Linked DNA regions of Homo sapiens. The protein of the gene in region 1 purifies or fractionates together with the protein of each later gene. This does not show direct contact. Each region holds a gene or a part of one and is shown on either strand. Other genes may lie near its edges.

Region 1 (7,960 bases):
TGTGCCTAATCTCAAGAAACGCCGCGCCTGGGGCATGACTGCCCTCAGCATTCCCTCTGGGTGGCAGACGCAGTTTGCCAACATTCTGCATTCATGAGAACAGTTTACTGTTTACTCATATAACCTCCAGTGGTACACCGAGTTGATCATGACCCTCCCTCTTTCGGCCTGCAACATCACATGAATCCAATGAGTATTGGTTAGTAAAATGCCTATGACTAGTCATCTTCATCTATGCAATTAAATATTAATTCATCAAACACTTCAAATGTAAGCAATTAATAATTAGTGAATGAAAAATACATAATACATCAATTAGAAAAAAACTCTATTAAAAAGACATTTGTGTGATAAAAGAGATTGCCATTTTTGTATTTTTCTACAAAGTTAAAGAAAACTAAGTCAGCTTATATAAGTGAATTTTAAAAGCCTTTAGGCCAGGCATGGTGGTTCATGCCTGTAATCCCAGCACTTTGGGAGGCCAAGGTAGGCAGATCACCTGAAGTCAGGAGTTCGAGACCAGCTTGGCCAACATAGTGAAACCCATCTCTACCAAAAATACAAAAATTAGCCAGGCGTGGTGGCAGGTGCCTGTAGTTCCAGCTACTAGGGAGGCTGAGGCAGGAGAATTGCTTGAACCCGGGAGACGGAGATTGCAGTGAGCCGAGATGGTACCACTGCACTCCAGCCTGGGCAACAGAGTGAGACTCCATCTCAGGAAAAAAAAAAAAGGGCATATATATCCATTATTTCACTGGGCCTTCACACAGCCCTGCTAGTCAACCCTCGAGAATTGAGGAATCAGAGAACTTAGGAACAAGAACATGACCTGGGACTTCTTATGTAAGTGAGAATCTTAGGCTAAATTGTCTTGCGGTAAATGCCTTTCCCATCCTCAGAAGTCTATAGTGAGCAGAAAGCAGTAACAGCATCCTCCCTTCCACTCTTCCCTTCAGGCTGAACACATCCCTGTCCCTACAGCCTTTGCAGAGACACAGGTGACAGAGCACTCAATATAGAATCCCTGGGCTCACACTGGCTTTCCTACAGACACAGGGGATCCATGAGGCCCACAGTGACATACACATGTACACAAGGATGCACGTACTGACACTGATGAGCCCTGGAAGTCAACACAGAGTGGCATACAGAAGAACACATGCAGGCACACACACAGCCACAACTGGACCTGCGAGGTCTACAGCCCCACAAATGAAAAGAGGTGCATACCATCTCACAACAAACTAGAACTTTGAGAGAACCACACACACACACAGGTCTACAAATTCACCTGAACAAGACGCCGTCCATAGTCACTGGCGTAAGGCATCTACTCACTATCACACAGAACACACTCAGGCAAGCAGACATAGATGATACATCCACAATCTACAGAGATGAACTGCAGAGTTACATGCACAGATATGCCAGTCATACATTCAGATCTGTGTAAACAGTGAGGCACACACACACATACACATGTGCACTTATACAGAAAGACTCAGACCCAGCCAGGCATGGTGGCTCAGGCCTGTAATCCTAGCACTTTGGGAGGTCGAGGCGGGTGGATCACGAGGTCAAGAGATTGAGACCATCCTGGCTAACATGGTGAAACCCCATCTCTACTAAAATTACAAAAAAATTAGCCGGGTGTGATGGCGGGCACCTGTAGTCCCAGCTACTCAGAAGGCAGAGATTGCAGTGAGCTGAGATTGCGCCACTGCACTCCAGCCTGGACAACAGAGCGCGACTCCATCTCAAAAACAAAAAAAGAAAGACTCAGACCTGACCTGTTAGTCAACAGCCAGATGCCAACAGATAATCACATTAGACTCATCAGCAAGCACACCGTGCACACAAGTTCCACTCCCATGTACAGGTTCCTGTCCCATGTACACAAGCCTGCACACAAACACGTATCCAGACTCCAGAACTGTTGAGACAGTGCCCACATACACACTCATAGAGTCACCTGTGCACAGGTGCACGTACACATTGTTTCACAGAGGCACACCAGGACAGAAACACATAAGAAATGTGAGGCAAAAGCGGACCCACACCTACACCTGTAAGATACACAGAGAAACAAACACATACACAAACTTACACATAGACTCATGCACTGTGTAATCAACAGTTCTATACCCCACCAAGGCTCTTGTCCTGGTGTGTCCAGAATTGGTGGGTTCTTGGTTTCACTGACTTCAAGAATGAAGCCACAGACCCTCGTGGTGAGTGTCACAGTTCTTAAACGCAGCGTGCGCGGAGTTTCTTCCTTCTGGTGCGTTCGTGGTCTCGCTAGCTTCAGAAGTGAAGCTACAGACCTTCGCAGTGTTAACAGCTCATAAAGGCAGCGTGGACCCAAAGAGCTAGACACAAAAGTTCTCCACGTCCCCACTAGATTAGCTAGATACAGAGTGTCCACTGGTGCATTCACAAACCCTGAGCTAGACACAGAGTGCTGATTGGTGCATTTACAAACCTTGGGCTAGATACAGAGTGCCAATTGGTGTATTTACAATCCCTTAGCTAGACATAAAGGTTCTCCAAGTCCCCACCAGAGTAGCTAGATACAGTGTTGATTGATGCATTCACAAACCCTGAGCTAGACACAGAGTGCTGATTGGTGTGTTTACAAACCTTGAGCTAGATACAGAGTGCCGATTGGTGTATTTTCAACCCCTTAGCTAGACATAAAGGTTCTCCAAGTCCCCAGCAGAGTAGCTAGATACAGTGTCGATTGATGCATTCACAAACCCTGAGCTAGACACAGGGTGCTGATTGGTGTGTTTACAAACCTTAAGCTAGACACAGAGTGCCCACTGGTGTATTTACAATCCCTTAGCTAGACATAAAGGTTCTCCAAGTCCCCACCAGACTCAGAAGCCCAGCTGGCTTCACCCAGTGGATCCCGCACCGGGGCCGCAGGTGGAGCTGCCTTCCAGTCCCGCGCCGTGCGCCCGCACTCCTCAGCCCTTGGGTGGTCGATGGGACTGGGCGCCGTGGAGCAGGGGGCGGCGCTTGTCGGGGAGGCTTGGGCCGCGCAGGAGCCCACGGCGGTGGGTAGGCTCAGGCATGGCGGGCTGCAGGTCCCGAGCCCTGCCCCGCGGGGAGGCAACGAAGGCCCGGCGAGAAGTCGAGCACAGCAGCTGCTGGCCCAGGTGCTAAGCCCCTCACTGCCCGGGTCCGGCTGGCAGCTCCGAGTGCGGGGCCCGCTGAGCCCACGCCCACCCGGAACTCGTGCTGGCCCGCAAGCGCTGCGCGCAGTCCCGGTTCCCGCCCGCGCCTCTCCCTCCACACCTCTCGGCAAGCTGAGGGAGCCGGCTCCGGCCGCAGCCAGCCCAGGAAGGGGCTCCCACAGTGCAGCGGTGGGCTGAAGGGCTCCTCAAGCGCGGCCAGAGTGGGCGCCAAGGCCGACTAGGCGCCGAGAGCGAGCAAGGGCTGTGAGGACTGCCAGCACGCTGTCCCCTCTCACTGGGTTGCTATTAAAAATGGGCGCTGAATATAAAAATTAACCGGGCGTGGTGGTGCATGTCTGTAAGTCCCAGCTACTCCGGAGGCTGAGGTGGGAGAATAGTTTGAGCCCGAGAGACTGAGGCTACGGTGAGCCGTGATTGTGCAACTGCACTCCAGCCTGGGCGACAGAGTGAGACCCAGTCTCAAAACAAAATCAAACACGGGCGCTGCCCTGGGCAGGGGAGGTCTGGGCACAGCTGTGCTGATGTGGGCAGTGGACAGGTGTCACGTGAGAGCCTGTGGCCAAGCCTAAGCTGCGGTTAAGGTGGGAGGCTGAAGGGTTTGGAGTGTGCACCACCCCGGACCACCTCTCAGTAGGAATGTGGCAATGCACTTCGGTGCTGGATTCCTACTTCTGGCTGTGTGATTTGCGACACGTTACCCCACGCACCTGTACCACAACTTCCTCATCTCCCAAATGGGATGACAGTAGTTAGCAAACCTCCCTGGACTGCTGTGAGCATTCTGCCAGAAAAATGTACTCCAAGCTCTTGAAGTAGGCCTGGCGTTTGGTTGGTGCTCAGTACATATTCAATGTTTCTGTCGCTGGCGTCATCACTGTGTTCATGGCAGAGCTCTGTGCCGCCAGGACTGGGCCGCCACCCAGACCTTCCTTTCCCGCCCCAGGGGTGAACTGTGGACAGGACCCTCTGGGGGGACTAGGCCAAGGCTCTCCCACCTCTGGGGACCCGCGCCCATGGGCCTCAGATATGTGGCTCGAGAAGGGGGAGTGGGGGCAGGGCCCCTGGAAAACCCCTCGAGGCCAGACCCACCACTCCCAATATCCGTAAGACCAGGGGCTTGAGTCTTTCCTGCAGACAGATGTGGGCAGGAACCCACCCGACTCCCAGCTACGTGGGGACGTGGACGAACTAACAGGACAAATTCTAGTTCCTGGACACCGCCCTCCCAGTATCCTCGCAATTAGACACCCATGCAGCGGCACTACACTGATCCGCACACGGAGATACACAGCGACATCCGCCCGCAAGAGCATGGTGGGTGCCGGAGCTCCCGGCTGTGGGCCCAGGAACTACATTTCCTAGAAGGATGTGCTAGATACTCGTTCGCGTCGGGACGCAAGCACCGGCCCGAACTCGCTCTAGGAAATGGAGTCTGACGCCTGCGCGGCGCAAACGCTCCCGGGAGGTGTAGTTTGCGCCTATTTCGCGCAGGCGCGCTTTCCCGCAGCGGCCGCCTGCTGCTCTTTGTGGCAGTCGCAGTCCTTTTGTGGGAGTCCGGTCTGTCCACTTGCCGGTCCCTCAGACCGTCGGCGGTCTCTGTCCGCTTCGGGACCTGTCCGCTGGTCGCTCCGCGTCCGATGGCTCCTGGCCGCGGAACCTTAGGCCTGGCCCTGGTCTCCGAGCGCGGGTTCGCCGGGAGGAGCGTGTGGCGGGGGTGTGCCGGGGCGTGAGTGCGCCGAGCATGGGGCTGAGCCTGGTGTGGGGAGTGGGTATCTGCGGAGCCGGCCTGAACCCCACCTCAGCCGGGCGCGGGGAGGGGGCTCCGTGCGTGTGATCGTGCAGCTGTGAGCGCGTGGCCGCCCCGCGGGGCTCCGCTGCAGGCCCCTCAGCCCCAGGAGCAGTACTCGCTCTTCAGGGCCTGCCCTGGATCCTGGAGGCTACACAGCTGCCCACTCCTCCTGGGGAGGCTGCCGTGGAGGCCATGGAGATCCCTGCCCCGGAGCCCGAGAAGACAGGTACAGCTTCACTCTTGTAGTCAGTATGTCTGTGGATTTGCACTTGAGGATATTGACACTCAGAGAGATCAGGCCAGTTTCCCAGAAGCATCCAGCATCTTTTTTTTTTTTTTTAAATGGAATCTCACTCTGTCACCCAGGCGGGAGTGGTGCAATGGCTTGATCTCCGCTCACTGCAACCTCTGCTTCCCGGGTTCAAACTATTCTCCCGCCTCAACCTCCCAAGTAGTTGGGATTGCAGGCGCGCGCCACCACGCCCGGCTAATGTTTGTATTTTTAGTAGAGACGGGGTTTTGCCATGTTTCCCAGGCTGGTCTTAAGCTCAAGCGATCCGCCCGCCTCGGCCTCCCAAAGTGCTGGGATTACAGGCGTGAGCCATCGCTCCTGGCCTCCTGCTTCTTTCTTCCCCGCGCCCAATCATTTGTTCCCACTCAGACGTGCTTGATTGGGGGTAGCAGCTCTTTTCGTCATGAATTGGAGTGTCTGAGACACAGGCAGATTATTCCTCGATGCTGTTTCTGTTGGTGCTAGCTACTGGGGCTCGTTCCCCACCTGGCCTTGCTGGCAGGTTCTGCCTCCTCTCTGATTCTCACTTGTGCCACGACAGGTGGGCTTTAAGCTCAGCCGTGAGCCTGGTAGCCGTGACCTTGACTCATTTCTCCTTCGCCAGCTCTTTCCTCTCAGGATCCTGCTCTTTCCCTGAAAGAGAATCTCGAGGATATATCGGGTTGGGGTCTTCCCGAAGCCAGGTCCAAGGTGAGTGGCTGTGTGTTCTTCCTTCTTTATGAAGAGGGTTGGCACATTCCCTCCCCAGCCCTGGATCGTCAGCCTTCCACAGACCTTCACCCGGGTACCTGCTGGCCAGTCCTCAGGAAGCTCTGGGCAGTGGGAACAGCTCCAAGTGAAGAGTCCAGATGTTGCCCGAGGTGTGCCCTCGAGATGTGCTCTATTGAATGTCTCGCCCAGTCCAATTCAGTGGGTCAGTTGCTGGGGATCTCTCTGCCCAGCGCTGTGCTGGGAGCTCTGAGGAGTGGTTTTAGTGGAATCTGAGAAAGTAGTTGACGGCTCACATGGGGTCGCTTTGCCTATCCACGTGCTGGCCAGGGGTTGGTGCAGGATGTTTGCACGGTTGGTTTACTGGGACTGGAATCAGACAGGGGCACGTGGAGCAGCTCAGGAAGGGCTGGATTGCAGCACTTGGTTAAGAGTGGCGGTAGGGGACACATCCCTGTGTGCTTTCCTCTGTACCCAGCCCCTGGCATGGGGCCTTCATGGAGAGTCCTGGAGATTTAGAGAATCTGGGGGCTCAGCAAGGAATTGGCCCTGGGAACTTCTGCAGCCAAATGGGACCCAGATCCCTCCTTTTACAGACTGTGAACTCTGTTCCTCATTTTGTTTTTCTACCGCAACCACCTCACCCCATGGTTGTATTTAGAAGGGTGCAGTTGACAAAGAGAGCACAGTAGAGTGAAAGATGTGGAGGAATAAGGGGTCTTTGGGTTTTTGTTTTTTTTTTAGCATTTTGTGATTTTGTCAGTCTGCCACTCAAAAGAGGTGATGGCAGATTATAGCCAGCTAGAAACAGCTGCAAAACGTGTATTGTGAGCTGTGCCTCACTTCTGTAGTGTGTCACAATGCTTTATAGTCCTCAAGAAACTTGACAGTCAAATGCAATGCATGTTCCTTGCTTAGGGGATAGATCCAAAAAAATTGATAAAGGGCAGTTTGGGACAAGAGGAAATTTGAAAATGGGCTGTATCTTAGGTCATATTGTATCAATATGAAATTTATTGCATGTGATAATAGTACTGTGATTATGTAAGAGAATATCCACAGGAGATACAAGCTGAAGACTGTAGAGTGAGACATCATGATGTCTGCAACTTACCTTCAAATGGTTCAGCAAAAAAAAATGTGTGTGCATGTATGTATGTCTGTATGTGTCTGTGCAGCTCCGTCTAGGTGGTAGGGCCCTCATGCATGTGTTATTCCTATTCCTAAAATATTAGCTTGTTAGATCTTTGAATAACCAGTTGACTCTCCTGAGTACACATCAGCTTTGGCATTTTCTCTTGACAGTCTCATTCTCACTCACAGTTCAAGTTGTTCTGTCTCCTGGGACATCTTGTGTGGTCTGTTCTGACTTCTCTGCTAGTGTCATTACCACATCAGCATCTGATTCCAATGCATACTGTCTGGGTTTTTTATTCCTTTCCCTGCAGAATGATGACACATTAGACATGGACTTCTCCCAGTGGCCAGAAATACCCATCAAAAAGGCCTGTGCGGGCCTCAGACCCTACCCTACTCTTGCTGGTTTTGCTCCCCACACTGAAGCCATGTAGCCTCTGACAGCCTCACTGGCCAACACCATATTCTGATACCTGTGGAGCTATTTTTTTGTTTTTCTTTCTTTTTCTTTTTTTTTTTTTGAGACAGAGTCTTGCTCTGTCGCCCAGGCTGGAGTGCAGTGGCACAATCATAGCTCACTGCAGCCTTCAACTCCTGGGCTCAAGCAAATCCCCCACCTCGGCCTCCTAAGTAGTTGGGACCAACGTGTGTGCCCCCACACCTGGCTTGGAGCCTTGTTTCAGCCCATTTTCTCCTTCCCTCGGCTATCGTCATCCTTCATGCCTGCATGCCTCAGTTAGGGGTGTGTTCTCAGCATTTGTCCTCATCTCTACCTCCTCATCTGAAATCCAGTGTTTTGGGGGGTAAGGTTTTATTGAGGTGTAATTTATATAC
Region 2 (7,590 bases), on another chromosome or scaffold:
GTGGCAGAAAAACATTTGAAAGATCATTCAGTTCAACTTCTTTATGTTTGCTGAATAAAACAAGCAAACAAAATTGAGCTTTAGTAATCATCTGTATAGATCATGAAATTAGTAAATAACATATTTTAAGGTCTCTTGGATAACATAATTTTAAAAGAATAATAAGTAAGGCCCGATATAAATATTAATATATTAGAAGGTGTTATATTAGAAATAGTACATTAAAATTAACCCATTTTAAAAAGTGTGCCTATAAAAACACGGCATAAGAAATGAAAAAAGGTTGTAAATGGACATATTATAAATAATTTTATAAATGTATTAACTTGTATATCATTTGAAGAACTTACATAGTAACCAATGGATAAATGAATAAAACCCATGCCCAAGTAATTAAAAGAAGAGGAAAAATAGTTAATATGTGAAAAGGTTTATTCTTGCTGGTCATCAAAAAAATTACAAGTTAAAATGATGTATTATTTCATACATAATATATAAATAATAAAAGTGATTTTCAAATGTTATTTCTTATCGCTGATAAATTTGTGGTAAAATGGTACTTTTATGCATTACTAGGATTCAAATGCCTGTTCAATCTGTTGTGAGCTATGAGACTTTAGAGTAGTCACTAAATCTTCCCACATGAGATAGTGTTAGTATTAAAATAGTGTGCAAATAAATAATTCCAAGAGAATTATTCTCTTAGTAATCATATATAATTATATATAATTATAAATAAATTAATAATAAATAATTTCTAAGAGAATTCTCTTAGAAAAGCAATTTAGTTTCAAGAAGTTTAAAACCTTATATCCTTTGATGACAGAATAATTCCACTCTTAAGAATTTATTTTCAGGACATAATTCAATAGAGAAAAAATGCTTAATACATTATGTATAATTCAAAAATCAGAAATAATTCAAATGTTCAGCAGAAGAGTTCATTTATTTATTGTATGTCAATTCTACCTATCTAAAATTCTAAATTCTACCAACTTTTTAGAGACTAAAATGTAGCTAAAAATACCTTTTAAAGCTATACAAATGTAGAAATTTCTTATGGTATCTTCTTAAAAGAATACAAATCTCTTTATACCATAGTATATGTTTCTGCAAAAGCTATGTCTTCATATAAACAATGATTAGAAGACAACATGGAAAAGCGGAGTGAAGTCAGCATGATGGGTGTGATAGCATTGTGACTGATGATATTTTGAATTCTCTTTAATGTTTAGGTAACATAAAAGCATTAATAGAAAAATTTAAAACACCACATCCGGAATTTAGGAAAATAAAACACTCCCGGGGCAAATGAGTCATACACAAAATACTTTTACCCAATAGATTTGCTTTTGACTTTAGACCTTGTTAATATGGAATGACTGATGTGGAAATCCATTAGTCTTTTAAAGTTCATCAGATGGCCGGGTGCGGCGGCTCAAGCCTGTAATCCCAGCACTTGGGGAGGCTGAGGCGGGCGGATCACCTGAGGTCAGGAGTCCGAGACTAGCCTGACCAACATGGTGAAACCCCATCTCTACTAAAAATACAAAAAAAAATTAGCTGGGCATTGTGGCGTGTGCCTGTAATCCCAGCTACTCGGGAGGCTGAGGCAGGAGAATTGCTTGAATCCAGGAGGCGGAGGTTGCAGTGAGCCGAGATCACGCCACTGCACTCCAGCCTGGGCGACAAGAGCGAGACTCCATCTCAAAATAAATAAATAAATAAATAGATAAAGTTCATCACATATATTGAGTAAATATCTCCCACCCCCAATTTTTACCTCAAGGAGGGCATCGAAATCTTAGCTTTTTGAGGTAAATGGCAAAAATGGAGGCAGGTAATAAAAACATAAAAAGGATTCCACTGAATCATTATTTTAATAAACGTTTCCTCTTTCCTCTTACCGGTTCAGTGTATGAAAACCCCAGACCTTCTGCAGCTGATTTTATCAGCTCAGACTCCAGCTTATGACGTTTCACAAACATTGTTAAATCCTAGAGAAAAAGAAGTAAAGAAAGACATTTTTTATTTAAATAGCAGGTAAGAGATATGATAAATGTTCAGGTGGCAATATTTTCATTAGATAGTCACAAATGAGCTAACAAATATTCAGAACTGCAAGACTTGGCCCCATCTCAACATACTTTCACACGCTAGCATGTATGAATAAAAATGTGCTTCAGGCATAAATAAAGTTTGAAAGAACCGAGTTCAACAACCTTTGCTAAATTGTTAGACATCTTTAAGACCAGTGTCATATTTTTATCAACTCTCCCCCGAACACATGCAGAATCAAGAATTTCTTTTCAGGCCAGGCGCGGTGGCTCACGCCTGTAATCCCAGCACTTTGGGAGGACGAGGCGGGCAGATCACCTGAGGTCGGGAGTTCGAGACCAGCCTGACCAACATGGAGAAACCCCGTCTCTACTAAAAAAAAAATACAAAATTAGCCGGGTGTGGTGGCATGTGCCTGTAATCCCAGCTACTAGGGAGGCTGAGGCAGGAGAATCGCTTGAACCCGGGAGGCGGAGGTTGCGGTGAGCCAAGATTGTGCCATTGCACTCCAGCCTGGGCAACAAGAGCGAAACTCTGTCTTAAAAAAAAAAAAAAAAAAAGAATTTCTTTTCAAAACATTGGTCTCACCTCTCTGGCCTCAATGGATGCCGGGTCAATGCTATCATCCAGCAGACTCTCATAGTAATCCACATTGTCTAGGACATCCTCATCATCTGGATGGCATAGAAGATAGGCTTTGGCACACTCCAGGGCTTTCACATACTCACCAACTGAAAGACAAAGGAGTTGCAGCATTAGAGTCAGCCTAGGTCTGTCCAAAGGATTTTAAAGGGAGGCCATCAACGTGTCTACAAAGGTCAGCATTAAACATGAATAAGAGGGAAGATAAATTGAGGCTCAGCAGAGAAAGCAGAAACAGTCACAGATAAAAGGAAAGACATGATTTCAAGTATTCAAAAGTTATTACCTTTGGTCTGCTTTGGTACTAGTTGTTTTGTGCAAATCGTCAAGTTTCTATCTGAAGATGTTTGTTGACAACTTTTATTATTTAACACATATAAACAGCAGAATTCTATGAGTTAATTCTGATTTTTGTACCGAGTTTGGGTTAAGTAAACATCCTGAAGGTGATCTTTGCAACAGTAATGTACCATTTTATATATAATGTATGAGTAACATAAGTGCTTTTAAAATGTTATTTTTCATTGCTGCAGTTTGTGGTAAACTGGTACTTCAATGCAAAGTCCTTCATAGAGTCCCAGATGTTCTGGAGGAAGCCCCTTAAATCCTTCACTATACAATTATAGCACATCCTACAGTAGCAAACTACTAAAAGGAACTAACAAGGATGTTTCCAATATAAACTTTTCATTATAGAAATATTTAGCTATTACAAGGGAAATTTTAAATGTCTGTATGCCTTGTTTTCAAATAGTTCACAACATTGTATTTCTTCTAATGGAAATTTACAATATACGTATGTGTGTATATATATGTGTGTGTGTGCATGTATGTGTGTATAATAAATACATACACACACACACACACATATATATATACTCTGAGATGACTCTGATTTTTAAAAGGAATGATAAAAATTAAGCAACTCTCTCATCTTTGATTCACTGTTTATGACTTGAGCACGTGATTCACTGTGTGCCATCAACGCCAGGATAATAAATAATGTTTTGTTTTTGGAAAGGAAGAGGATTTTGCAAAGTTCCTTTTAAATTCAGTTCTAAAAAAATTAAGTCTAAAAAACCATGCAAAATGTCAATCTAGTATAATTTTCAGTAAATTATCACAGCATTAAATTTTGTACTTTGCCCATTGGTGATATCCCCTTCTGCTCTTCTTGTCCTGCAGCTCAGGAGAGAAGAAATGCATAAATTCCTATTGCTTTCATAATAAACTGAAGAAGTCAGAAAACTCAATTACAAAAATGTGATGTCTGTAATGATGAACCACAACCCCCCAAGAAGTCTTCACGGATGATCCACGCTTTACCTCGATAGTAGGCAAACTGTAGGTAATCATAGTGCAGAGGAAGAAAATTCTCGATGGGAGAGAGGCGGCCAGGGCGGGTGGCAAGTTCCCTCACACATTCATGCTGACAAACAAGCACCTGCATGTAGTGATCTGGAAGACAAGAGCCAATACGTGTGTTCCTCCAGGTTGCTGAGTGCCCAAACGTCAACGTCACAGCCACAGTTACACAGGTCATTCCTCACCTCACCACACTGGAAGACCAAATTATTATAATCCTCACTTCCGGACTGCAAAACCTTTTTACAAAGAAAGTAGGTGACTTGCCAAGGTCTCCTGGTCAGCGATCACTAGAACGACAGTAGATTCCGAATCCTCCAGCTCACAGTCTGTTCTCTACACCTCACTTTTCCCTTCCCATGTACACTTTTTATACCCCACAGTCCACTTTACCCCACCTACACCCAGCTGAATGTCAGTTTTCATATTTAACAACTTTGGGGTCTCTCTTTGGATATCTTGGATGGCTCGAAGTGCCCTGGAATCGGGAATGGAAGTTCAGATGCTAGTAAATGTTAAGGAACAGTTTGGAAAAAGAAACCACCATGGGCATGGAAAATTCAGGCTGAGAAGTGAAGCAAAAGTGCTCTTTTTCTTTCTTAACATTTTCAAGCCAAATTGTCCTAAAAGAGAAATAAAAACTCTTTTTTTTTAAACCTATTGGTCAGAAACCTATTCTATCCAGTTATAAATTAGTCTATCGCCTAGACATAGTATATTCTAATACTAAGTACATTGTATATTCTTTACCAGAGACTGGTAAAACAGGCAGAAGGATGTAAACTAAAGGAATGAGCATCTTATTTCCTATTTCTCTTCACTCCCCTTTCTATTGCTCCCATTCTTCTTGCTTGAGAGTCCTGAAGTGTTAGGGTCTTCATGCCACCTTTGGCTCTGGACTCTATTTTATCAAAGCCTGAGATGAGGAAACACAAGTGGTGAATGTCCCAGAGAAGAAAATGCCTCCTACGTTTCACCTTGACTGATTTTTACAATGAAGATGGATGTATTTTCCAGCAAGAAAGATTCATTCATGGCTGCGCTGAGTGGGTTCTTTTGAGAATGATGATAAAATCATTTGATCTCATAGCTGTGCAATTTAATTTACCACAACTGCCTTTTTTTCAAAAGGTTCTCTGTTTAGTCTGAGTTTGGCTTGGATCTTGGTGATTTTGCAGAGGGACCCCAAAACACAACAGGAAGGAAACGTGCATTTTCTGGTGTGGGGGAATGTGCCAGTTTTGTATAACTTGGCTAACTGAATCATTTATAGCACAGCTAATAGAATCCCTAAAGCCCATTGGTTATTAACCCCAGTCAGGGGATGTGAAGGAAGAATGAGTTCTATTTATTTGATTAGCATGTTAGAAATAAATAACCAGCTGTTTCATTTCTTAAGAAAACAAAAATAAACAACCTTCAACTGTTTTCTCCTACTCAACTTACCATTTGCATTTCTATTTACTTTCTAATACACATTCCTTTTAATTCCAAGTGACAAGCAAAAGGTAAAGGCGAAAGATACCCACCGAGAACTCAAAATCTGAATGGAAATATTTTTTCAAAGCGGATACAAATAGCAGCAAAATAGGAGTGACAGAAAGGTATCCTTTAGGGTTTCATAGCAGAGCTAGTAATAAATAACTGCATTCAGCAGCCATTTGTATTTTTCCCGAACTGTTAATGTCTAACTCTAAAATTCAAATATTCTGATTTTCTAATACATTTGCTATTTAAAAAGCCAGTTTTATACCTAATTTAGGACAATTTTGAAGCAGACAAGAATTTACATAGTGAGAGCTGTCATATTACTTTTATTAGGTATATCCCTTGCCTCCTTTCTATCTTAAATGACATTGTGCAATTAATATGTTTTTAATAAGTTTGAGTCTTAAAAATTAAAGAACCTGAGTTATGAGATCTCTATTCTTTTCCAGCTACCGACATGCTGTGGTGACCTTGAGCAAATCACTAAATATTCATCTGTGGGAAATCGTCGGTCCATTTTCCTAAACCAGATCTAGGACATTGGCCAAAACTGTTCAGTGGCCATTGGTGGAAGCAGGTGTAGAGGCGAATGTGGGCGTGAAAGCAGGATGCATATCTCCCCACAACCACAACACAGTTAACTATAATAAAGGAAGAATCTGCCATTCCCAAATACAAGATCAAGTGTAGAGAAATAGCAATTAAAATGTGAACCACACATAAAACTGACATTCCAAAAATTTAGGCAACTGGATCTGGCAGAGATCCAAAAAAATAAAACTTTCAGGAAAATATCCTCAATAATTGAGATTGCTGTATTGAATTTAGGTGAACTGAGTTGATTTTGGGTAACTGGGTGTGTCACAAATTGGTCATTCGTCACATTAATTTTCAGTCTACTTCCTAGTCTAATTTTTGATAGCTATACCCTAATTGTCTCTATAAGAAACCTTAAAAATAATTCTTAACAATAATCCTAAACCTACATTCTCATAAACATGGAGTATTTAACCATTTTAATCCCTGCTATGAGATAGATGGATATATCATCTCCTTCCTTCATTCATTCATTAATCAACCCATTCATTTAACCAGTATTTACTAAGTAAGTATCTACTATTTGCCACTCACTCTTCTTAGGCACTGAAGATTGAGCACTAAACAGGACAAGGCTTTAGCCGAGAGATAGAAGAAAACAACACTTTGAAGATCTGTAAGTGGAAATAAGCATGGCATATTTAAGGAATCAAAAAGCAGGAGAGAGAGTGAGAGGGAGAGAGAGAATGAATGAAAACATACACAAGTGCCCAATCATGAAAGTTCTTATTAAAGAATTGGATTTTATTCCAAGTGGAGTGTAAACCATTTGGGGTGTTTAAACCAGATCTGTGAGCAGAATTTTGTTTTTTTAGAGACTGCTCTGTGGGCATTTGGAGCAAAACCAGAACAGGACATGAAGAGCAACAAGGAGGCAATCACTGTTGCTTTGAGCCAGGGTGGTAGCAAAAGGGGTGGAGGGAGTTAGGAAGTGTTCAGTGCTATTAGGAGATAACCTCTATCCAAGTTTGGTAAAAAATCATATGGGAATAGGAATTAAGGAAGATGTTGGATTGAAAGGTAACTTGGTTTGAGTTATTAGGTGAGTAGTGCTTTTTGTTTGTTTGTTTGTTTTTCCTTTGAGATGGAGTTTCGCTCTTATTGCCTAGGCTGGAGTGCAATGGCACCATCTCGGCTCACTGCAACCTCGGCCTCCAAGGTTCAAGTGATTCTCTTGCCTCAGCCTCCTAAGTAGCTGGGATTACAGGCACCCACCACCACACCTGCCTAATTTTTTATATTTTTAGTAGAGATGGGGTTTCACCATGTTGGCCAGGCTAGTCTCAAACTCCTGAGCTCATGTGATCCACCTGTCTCAGAATCCCAAAGTGCTAGGATTACAGGCATGAGCCACCGCGCCCGGATGAGTAGTGCTTTTTAGGAAGACTGAAAGCACTGGAAGTTGGGGAGAGCAAACTGATTTTATTCACTGGCATTTCA

The links.
Region 2: the proteins of ZNF74 (region 1) and P3H2 purify together in Homo sapiens (co-immunoprecipitation; 2 studies listed by BioGRID and IntAct, with this or other methods). This does not show direct contact.

The regions. Positions count from the first base shown.
Region 1 is NC_000022.11:20,389,448-20,397,407, forward strand, and holds the start of ZNF74 (zinc finger protein 74), read left to right. Parts: upstream 1-4,703; 5' UTR 4,704-5,181; coding exon 5,182-5,215; intron 5,216-5,885; coding exon 5,886-5,971; intron 5,972-7,960. UniProt on the Homo sapiens protein: May play a role in RNA metabolism.
Region 2 is NC_000003.12:189,984,881-189,992,470, forward strand, and holds part of P3H2 (prolyl 3-hydroxylase 2 isoform a precursor), read right to left. Parts: intron 4,159-7,590; coding exon 4,027-4,158; intron 2,790-4,026; coding exon 2,647-2,789; intron 1,998-2,646; coding exon 1,908-1,997; intron 1-1,907. UniProt on the Homo sapiens protein: Prolyl 3-hydroxylase that catalyzes the post-translational formation of 3-hydroxyproline on collagens. Contributes to proline 3-hydroxylation of collagen COL4A1 and COL1A1 in tendons, the eye sclera and in the eye lens capsule.